Regions from separate parts of the Homo sapiens genome. Here region 1 is linked to region 2. The links come from fine-mapping of genetic effects on gene expression. A gene starts in region 2. The other region holds a variant in brackets. All regions are shown on one strand. Distances are from middle to middle.

The links. PIP is the estimated chance that this variant, and not a neighbour inherited with it, causes the effect. A credible set is the group of variants that fine-mapping cannot tell apart.
Region 1: its variant is the best candidate, but not a certain one, in a credible set for the expression of CHKB-DT in naive CD4 T cells (Schmiedel 2018, PIP 0.71).

What each region holds. Positions count from the first base shown.
Region 1 is chr22:50,613,431-50,617,812 of GRCh38, reverse strand. It overlaps MAPK8IP2 (mitogen-activated protein kinase 8 interacting protein 2), which reads right to left. Exons shown (of 12, transcript NM_012324.6): 12 at 3,835-4,382. Among named protein-coding and RNA genes, the nearest start is that of ARSA, 13 kb to the left of the region's middle. The variant TTC/C (reference allele first, on the strand shown) is at 2,235.
Region 2 is chr22:50,580,614-50,584,970 of GRCh38, reverse strand. CHKB-DT (CHKB divergent transcript) reads right to left here and starts at 1,945. Exons shown (of 4, transcript NR_110536.1): 1 at 1,648-1,945. CHKB (choline kinase beta) reads left to right here and starts at 2,122. Exons shown (of 11, transcript NM_005198.5): 1 at 2,122-2,413; 2 at 2,614-2,722; 3 at 3,109-3,222; 4 at 3,418-3,551; 5 at 4,311-4,357. The coding sequence starts at 2,190. CHKB-CPT1B (CHKB-CPT1B readthrough (NMD candidate)) reads left to right here and starts at 1,972. Exons shown (of 30, transcript NR_027928.2): 1 at 1,972-2,413; 2 at 2,614-2,722; 3 at 3,109-3,222; 4 at 3,418-3,551; 5 at 4,311-4,357. RefSeq lists silencers at 1,576-1,975, 2,006-2,095, 2,426-2,625.

The DNA.
Region 1 (4,382 bases), 33 kb before region 2:
ATATCGAGGCTGCAGTGAGCCATTATTGTACCACTGCACTCCAGCCTAAGTGACAGAACAAGACCCTGTCTCTTAAAAAAAAAAAAAAAGAATATTACATAAACTTAGTTGATAAAGCAGCAGCAGTGTTTGAGAGGGTTGACTTCAATTTTGAAAGAAGTTCTACTATGAATAAAATGCTATCAAACAGTGTCACATGCTATAGAGAAATATTTCATGAAAGAGTCAGTGTGGCAAACTTCATTGTCTTAATAAATTGCCACAGCTGCTCCAACCTTCAGCAACGACCACCCCGATCAGTCAACAGCCATCAACACTGACGCAGTACCTTCTACCGGCAGAAAGATTATGACTCACTGAAGGTGGAGATGATCACTGGCATTTTTTTAGCAATAAGGTGTTTTCTTTTTTTTTCAAAACAGAGTCTCGCTCTGATGCCCAGGCTGGAGTGCAGTGGCATGATCTTGGCTCACTGCAGCCTCCGCCTCCCGGGTTCAAGCGATTCTCCTGCCTTAGCCTCCAGAGTAGGTGGGACTACAGGTGCGTGCCACCACGCCTGGCTAATTTTTTTTTTTTTAAGACGGAGTCTTGCTCTGTCACCCAGACTGGAGTGCAGTGGCGTGATCTCGGCTCCCCAAGTAGCTGGGACTACAGGTGCCCGCCACCAGGCCCGGCTCATTTTTTGTATTTTTAGTAGAGACGGGGTTTGACCGTGTTAGCCAGGATGGTCTCGATCTCCTGACCTCATGATCCGCCTGCCTCAGCCTCCCAAAGTGCTGGGATTACAGGTGTGAGCCACTGAGCCTGGCCACGCCTGGCTAATTTTTTATATTTTTAGTACAGATGGAGCTTCATCATGTTGGCCAGGATGGTCTCAATCTCCTGACCTCATGATCCGCCTGCCTCAGCCTCCCAAAGTGCTGGGATTACAGGTGTGAGCCACTGAGCCTGGCCACGCCTGGCTAATTTTTTATATTTTTAGTACAGATGGAGCTTCATCATGTTGGCCAGGATGGTCTCAATCTCCTGACCTCGTGATCCCCCCGCCTTGGCTTCCCAAAGTGCTGGGATCACAGGCATGAGCCACCAAGCCCGGCCCTATTTTATTTTATTTCTTTTGAGATGGAGTTTTGCTCTTTTTGCCCAGGCTGGGGTGCAATGGCGCAATCTCGGCTCACTGCAACCTCTGTCTCCCGGGTTCAAGCAATTCTCCTGCCTCAGCCTCCCAAGTAGCTGGGATTACAGGCGCCTGCCACCACATCTGGCTATTTTTTTTTTTTTTTGTATTTTTAGTAGAGATGGGGTTTCACCATGTTGGCCAGGCTGGTCTCAAACTCCTGACTTCAGGTGATCCACCCACCTCGGCCTCCCAAAGCGCTGGGATTACAGTTGTGAGTCATCGTGCCCAGGCTCAATAAGGTATTTTCAAATTAAGGTATATACTTTAAAAGCTATTGCACATTCAATAGACTACAGTATAGTGGAAACATAACTTTTTTTTTTTTTTTGAGACAAGTTCTCACTCTGTCATCCACACTGGAGTGCAGTGGTGTAATTACAGCTCACTGCAGCCTCAACCTCCCAAGCTCAAGCAATTCTCTCACCTCAGCTTCCTGAATAGCTGGGGCTACAGGCACATGCCACCACACCCAGCTAATATATATATATATATATAAAATATGCATGTATTTATATATATTATATACATGTATATCTATATACTACATACGTGTATATCTATAAAATATACAGGTATACAATATATATACAGACCGGGTTTTTTTATGTTGTCCCTGCTAGTCTTAAACTCCTGGGCTCAAGCGATCTGCTTGCGTTGGCCTCCCAAAGTGCTGAGATTACAGGCATGAGCCACCATTCCTGGCCAACATAACTTTTATATACGCTGGAAAACAGAAAATTTGTGTGGCTCACGTTGTTGCAATCTTAGTGTGGTGGTCTAGAACCAAACCTGCAAAATCTCCAAGGTATGCCTGCAGCGACCTCTGCTATTTTGCTTTTATCTTTTGCCTTAAATTCTTCTTGATTCCCCTAACCTCCCTCTGCCTTCAACCCTCAAGTAGAAGGGAGACTGGAAAAAATACACCAAAATATTAGAAACAGTTATCTCTGGGCCATAAAAATACAGTTGATTTTAGCCTTTCTTCTATCATCTGCAGTCTCCAAAATGTCTATGATATGTGTTACTCTTTATAGGGAACGTAATTTTTTTTTTT[TTC/C]TTTTAGACAGAGTCTCACTCTGTCTCCCAGGCTGGAGTGCAGTGGTGCGGTCTCCACTCACTGCAAGCTCCGCCTCCCGGGTTCACGCCACTCTCCTGCCTCAGCTTCCCGAGTAGCCGGGACCACAGGTGCCCACCACTATGCCCAGCGAATTTTGTTTTTGTATTTTTAGTAGAGACGGGGTTTCACCGTGTTAGCCAGGATGGTCTCGATCTCCTGACCTGGTGATCCACCCGCCTCGTCCTCCCAAAGTGCTGGGATTACAGGTGCAAGCCATCACGCCCAGCCAGGGAAAGTAATATTTTTAAAAATAGGGAAATCCTACTTTTATAGTGTTTATAAAAATAATAACTTACTCAAGCACTACCCTTGGCCTGTCTGACTGGCAGATTCATTTAAGCCTTATGATAACCTTATGGGGTGGTATTTTTATTGTAGCCAAAATAACTTTTTTGTTTGAGTTTGATTAATTTATCTTAACTTTTTTATCTTTAGTTTTTCTGTGGATATTTCCATTTGCACTTGGAGGTCTCTAATAAGTAGCAAATAATACTTCAAAAAATTAAGACATATTTGCTGCAGGAAAAAAAGGAAGAGAAACACCCTCAGCTCAACTTCAGCAAAAATGAGGTGGTTTTTTTTTTTTTTTTTTTTTTTTTTTTTTTTTTTTTTGAGACGGAGTCTTGCTCTGTCTCCCAGGCTGGAGTGCAGTGGCGCGATCTTGGCTCACTGCAAGCTCCGCCTCCCAGGTTCATGCCATTCTCCTGCCTCAGCCTCCCGAGTAGCTGGAACTACAAGCGCCTGCCACCACACCCGGCTAATTTTTTGTATTTTTAGTAGAGATGGGGTTTGACCGTGTTAGCCAGGATGGTCTCGATCTCCTGACCTCATGATCCGCCTGCCTCAGCCTCCCAAAGTGTTGGGATTACAGGCATGAGCCACTGCGCCCGGCCAAAAATGACTTTTAACATTTTTTGTGTTTCAGCATTTTTCAACATATAGTTTCTAGAATGCTACATATGACCCTGCCTATTTTCTTTCTTTCTCTTTCTTTCTTTCATCTCTCTCTCTCTCTCTCTCTCTCTTTCTCTCTCTCTCTCTCTCTTCTTTTCTTTCATTGTGGTTACAGGGTCTTGCTCTTTCCAGCCAGAGTGTGGTGGCATGATCATGGCTCACTGCAGCCTCAACCTCCTAGGCTCAAGCTATCCTCCTCCCTTACCCACCCAAGTAACTGGGACTACAGGTGTGTGCCACCACACCTAGATAATTTTTGTATTTTTTTTTTTTTTTTTTTGTAGAGATAGAGGTTTCGCTTTGTTGCTCAGGCTGGTCTCGAACTCCCAGACTCAAGGGATCTGCCCACCTTGGCCTCCCAAATTGCTAAGATTACACAGTAGCATGAGCTGCTGTGCCCAGAAATTTATTTCCACTTAATAGCATAACAGAAATTTTCTGTGTAATTACAAACATTGGAACTTTTTTTCACATCTACCCAATATTTCAATTAGGTAAATATACCTTAATCAATTAACCCTATTGGTCAATATTCAGATTACTTTTATGCTTACATTATTTCAAAGAAGAATGCAATAAACACTTTTCTGTAGAACGCGTTTTATTTAGAACGCCATCCTTGGGCTAGATTGGCGGAAGTTGGAGGCGTCATGCAGCGCCTCCTGCCTGGGAGCCAGGCGATCCGCCAGGTTCTGGGAGGACCTAAGGTCAACAGCCACGCCTGCTCTCTGGGCTCACAGTCAGCAGCCGCTACCAGGAGAGCAAGTCCTCAGAAGGCCCGAGACCAGGGCCCGGGAGCGCCCACAAGGACGGGAGGTCACCCAGTGACAAACAGGGAAGGGCAGCAGGTGCGCCCAGGAACCCAGAGGCTCCCAGAGCAGAAGTGGGATGCAGGGGTGGGGGCGGGTCATGCTGAGGTTCAACAGGGACCTGCTTCCTGGTTCAACAGGGAGCTGGCCAGAGAGAGGGATCTGCTGAGGCTTCTGTTTAAAAACCCTGGCCTGGGTGTGGGTGCAAGTGGATTTGCAGGTGCAGTGAGGCAGCGGCCGGAGCAGGCTGTTGCACGAAGACCCAGGAAAGTCAGGGTGGTTTGATCCAGGCAGAAGAGGGGGAAATGGAGCCTGGGGCAGA
Region 2 (4,357 bases):
TCAAAGGTTTCTACTTTGCGCTTCCTTACATATGGTACCAAAGGCCTGGGATCAATGTATACGCTCCGCCCTCTGCTAGGTAAAAACATCCCAAGTATGCATTGAGACCAGAGAAGTAACCACAGGACTCGGGTTGGGAATTCTGCTTATCATCTGATTTCCATAAGCCTGCACCCTAATGAGAGGGCCATGATGCTTCAGGGCTCCTGGAAACAGTGTCAGCTCAGATCCTGTATCAGCCCTTCAAAGACCTAGACAGTCCCTTTTCCGAAGTAAACTAGTTTTTTTGGTGTGTTTGTTGTTGCTGTTCAGACAGTCTTGCTGTGTTGCTCAGGCTGGAGTGCAGTGGCGTGAACACAGGTCACTGCAGCCTTGACCTCCTGGGCTTAAGTGATTCTCTCACCTCAGCATCCAGAGTAGCTGGAACCACAGGCACCTGCCACCACGCCCAGCTAATCTTTTAATTTTTGTAAAGACAGGTTCTTGCTATGTTGCCCAGGCTGGTCTCAAACTCCTGGGCTCAAACGATCCTCCTACTTCGGCTTCCCAAAGTGCAGGGATTAAAAGCGTGACCCACTGCCCCCAGCCAGAATCAGTTTTCTTTTTTTTTTTTTTTTTTTTGAGACTGAGTCTGACTCTGTCGCTCAGGCTGGAGTGCAGTGGCTCGCGGCAACAAGGCCTGGGTTCAAGGGATTGTCACGCCTCAGCCTCCCGTGTAGCTGGGATTACAGGCACAAGCCACCAAACCCGGCTAATTTTTGTATTTTTAGTAGCGACGGGGTTTCGCTATGTTGGCCAGGGTGGTCTCAAACTCCTGACCTCAAGTGATCTGCCCGCCTCGGCCTCCCAAAATGCTGGGAGTACAGGCGTGAGCCACCACGCCCGGACCAGTTACTTTTTAAAGTGGCTCTAGGTCCCTTTAGGGAAGGATTGGAGGAATATTTCTTGGTATATGCTCAGATGCTGGTATTGTAAGATCCTTCCTGAGAGGAACCAAGCCTCCTTGTCAATTAATGGGCTCTAGGTCTCAAAACTGACTCAGATTTAAACAGAATGATCATGATTTTCCACTGCAGCAAAAGTGACATTAGCCTTGTGATCACCAATTTTTGATTTCTTTCTGGTTATCAAACAATACTCTAGTCAGATGCCCCAAAGAACACCATGGTTCGACAGACATTGCCACAGATCTCTGTGGGTCCAGCGTTCCTGGTCGCCGCTCTAGCCTGGGGCAGAAGCAGAAATGCAGGAGGCACGCGTTTAAATCAGGACGCCCTCAATGGGAGGTGCGCAGGCCGAGGAGGGGGCTGCGGCAAGCTGCGAGTCTTCACTTTCTTCGGCTCTTGGGTTTGACTCTGTAATTGGTTCTAGGCCTGGAGGAGACGAGGAGGATAGGGGGAGAGGGGAATGAATGAAGACGCGCATCTCAAGCGGGGCAGCAAAAGACTCCTCATTCAGAGGTGCGGCTCTACCGGCCAGGGAGTCCCCGTGTAGACTGGGCATTTATGCAACTGGAGTCATCGGAACTGTCCCAAGGGTCACATTCCTTCAGCAAATGTTTACTGCGTACCCACCGGGTGCCCGCATCCCGCACTCTGCCCGCGCTGTGCGGCCCTGCCTAGCGCGCGCGCCTCCTCCAGGCCTCACCCACGCTCAGGACGGACGCGCGCTGGACGGCTCTTCCTTGTCGGAGCGCCCCAGGGGTCGGGGAAGAGGGCCCGGCAAGGGAGCCCTCGCGCCGGAGCTGCAGCTGCAGCCGCCGCCCCGCCGCCCCGCCGGCTCCCACGGGGCAGAGACGCAGCTCCTCTCCGGTCTTCCCGTACGCTACCGCGCCCGGGCAGTTCCTCGCCCGCGCACGCGCCGCTCCGCCAACTGATTGGCCTCCGGCGCCTCGGATTGGCCCAGGCCGTCCAACAGCAGCCCCGCCCAGAGAGAGACCATTGGTCCTTGCCCATAGGGGCGGGGCCCGGCAGAGATCTGCGGAATTCGGCCTTCGGAAAGAGCCCCCGGGCCGGGGCACGGAGAGAGCCGAGCGCCGCAGCCGTGAGCCGAATAGAGCCGGAGAGACCCGAGTATGACCGGAGAAGCCCAGGCCGGCCGGAAGAGGAGCCGAGCGCGGCCGGAAGGAACCGAGCCCGTCCGAAGGGAGCGGAGCGCAGCCTGGCCTGGGGCCCGGTCGAGCCCGCGCCATGGCGGCCGAGGCGACAGCTGTGGCCGGAAGCGGGGCTGTTGGCGGCTGCCTGGCCAAAGACGGCTTGCAGCAGTCTAAGTGCCCGGACACTACCCCAAAACGGCGGCGCGCCTCGTCGCTGTCGCGTGACGCCGAGCGCCGAGCCTACCAATGGTGCCGGGAGTACTTGGGCGGGGCCTGGCGCCGAGTGCAGCCCGAGGAGCTGAGGGTTTACCCCGTGAGGTGGGAGGTCAGGGGTCAGCCTCTCCGGTGCGCGGATCGGGGTCAGGGGTCAGCCGCGGGGCCCTCAGGATGCTCCATGTTTTCGCCCCCCTCTTGCGCCCGCGCCTGGGGCGGGGCGGGGCCGGCCTGGCCGGGAGGGGGCCGGGGCCGCGGCAGGTAGGGCCGGCCGCGGGCTGAGCGCGCCTGGTGTGGGTCTGCAGCGGAGGCCTCAGCAACCTGCTCTTCCGCTGCTCGCTCCCGGACCACCTGCCCAGCGTTGGCGAGGAGCCCCGGGAGGTGCTTCTGCGGCTGTACGGAGCCATCTTGCAGGTGAGGGGGGTGTGAGCGCCGCAGCACCAGTGGCTTTAGGGCCTGTCGCTTACGCGATGCGGGTAGTATTGTTCCCGTTGCGCAGTTGAGGACACCGAGGTTCACGGTCTGAGTAACACCTCATTACACCGAAGCCTGGGCCTGTATTCCCAGAGCTTTGGGAGGCTGAGGCGAGAGGATCACTTGAGCACAGGAGTTCGAGACCAGCCTGGACAACATAGTGAGACCCCCATCTCTAAATAAAAATAGACCAACGCTAAAGCCTGTGCTCCAGAGCCTCCAGGCAATTGGATCAGAAGTCGCAGCTCTGGTGGGAGGAAGGCGAGCCCTCATGTGTGTCCCTGTGCCACTTTGCCTTGGCCCCTTTGCTGTCCATCCTTTTTCAGGGCGTGGACTCCCTGGTGCTAGAAAGCGTGATGTTCGCCATACTTGCGGAGCGGTCGCTGGGGCCCCAGCTGTACGGAGTCTTCCCAGAGGGCCGGCTGGAACAGTACATCCCAGTACGGGCCCAGTCCTACCCTCTCCTCCCCAAGGCACCTCCACCCCCTAACCCTACCCCAGTGCCCAATGTCTGCCTCCACATCCCTCACCCCAAGTAGGGAATTTCCCCCAAAACCCTGACTTCCCCTCATTGCCCCAGCCCTTCCCACTCCTGCCCCAGCCCCATCACCACCCTGATAGCTTCCTGGGTGCAGAGTCGGCCATTGAAAACTCAAGAGCTTCGAGAGCCAGTGTTGTCAGCAGCCATTGCCACGAAGATGGCGCAATTTCATGGCATGGAGATGCCTTTCACCAAGGAGCCCCACTGGCTGTTTGGGACCATGGAGCGGTGAGTCAGGAGCCTCCTCAGGGCTCCTGTACTCCTGAGCTGAACCTCCATGCCAGCGGATGTGTCGGGGGCTCTATCCAGCCCTCCACTTGAGTGGATCTGATGTCATGGGCTGTCACAGAACAGGCTTTTAAATGCTTGCCAGAGGCCACATGCAGTGCCTCATGCCTGTAATCCCAGAACTTTGGGAGCCGAGGTGGGTGAGGTGGGAGGATCACTTGAGCCCAGGAGGCGGAGGTTGCAGTGAGCTGAGCTCATGCCATTGCACTTCAGCCTGGGTGAGAGCAAGACTCTGTCTCAAAACACCAAACAAAAAAAGAAAAAAGAAATGATTGCCAAGGCCAGGCACGGTGGCTCATGCCTGTAATCCTAGCACTTCGGGAGGCTGAGGTGAGCAGATTGCCTGAGCTCAGGAGTTCAAAACCAGCCTGGACAACACAGTGAAACCCTGTCTCTATTAAAATACAAAAAAATTAGCCAGGCATGGCAGCATGCACCTGTAGTCCCAGCTACTCGGGAGGCTGAGGCAGGAGAATTGCTTGAACCCGGGAGGCAGAGGTTGCAGTGAGCCAAGATCGCGCCACTGCACTCCAGCCTGGGTGACAGAGCAAGACTCCATTTCAAAAGAAAAAAAGAAATGATTGCCGGACAAGTCACACAGTGATAGGAGCAGGGGTGCAGTAGTCTGGCCTGAGGGGTAGATAGGCGAGGGGTGGGAAAGAATAGCAGAGCCAGTGTATCCTATTCTTTGGGCTTCAGGTACCTAAAACAGATCCAGGACCTGCCCCCAACTGGCCTCCCTGAGA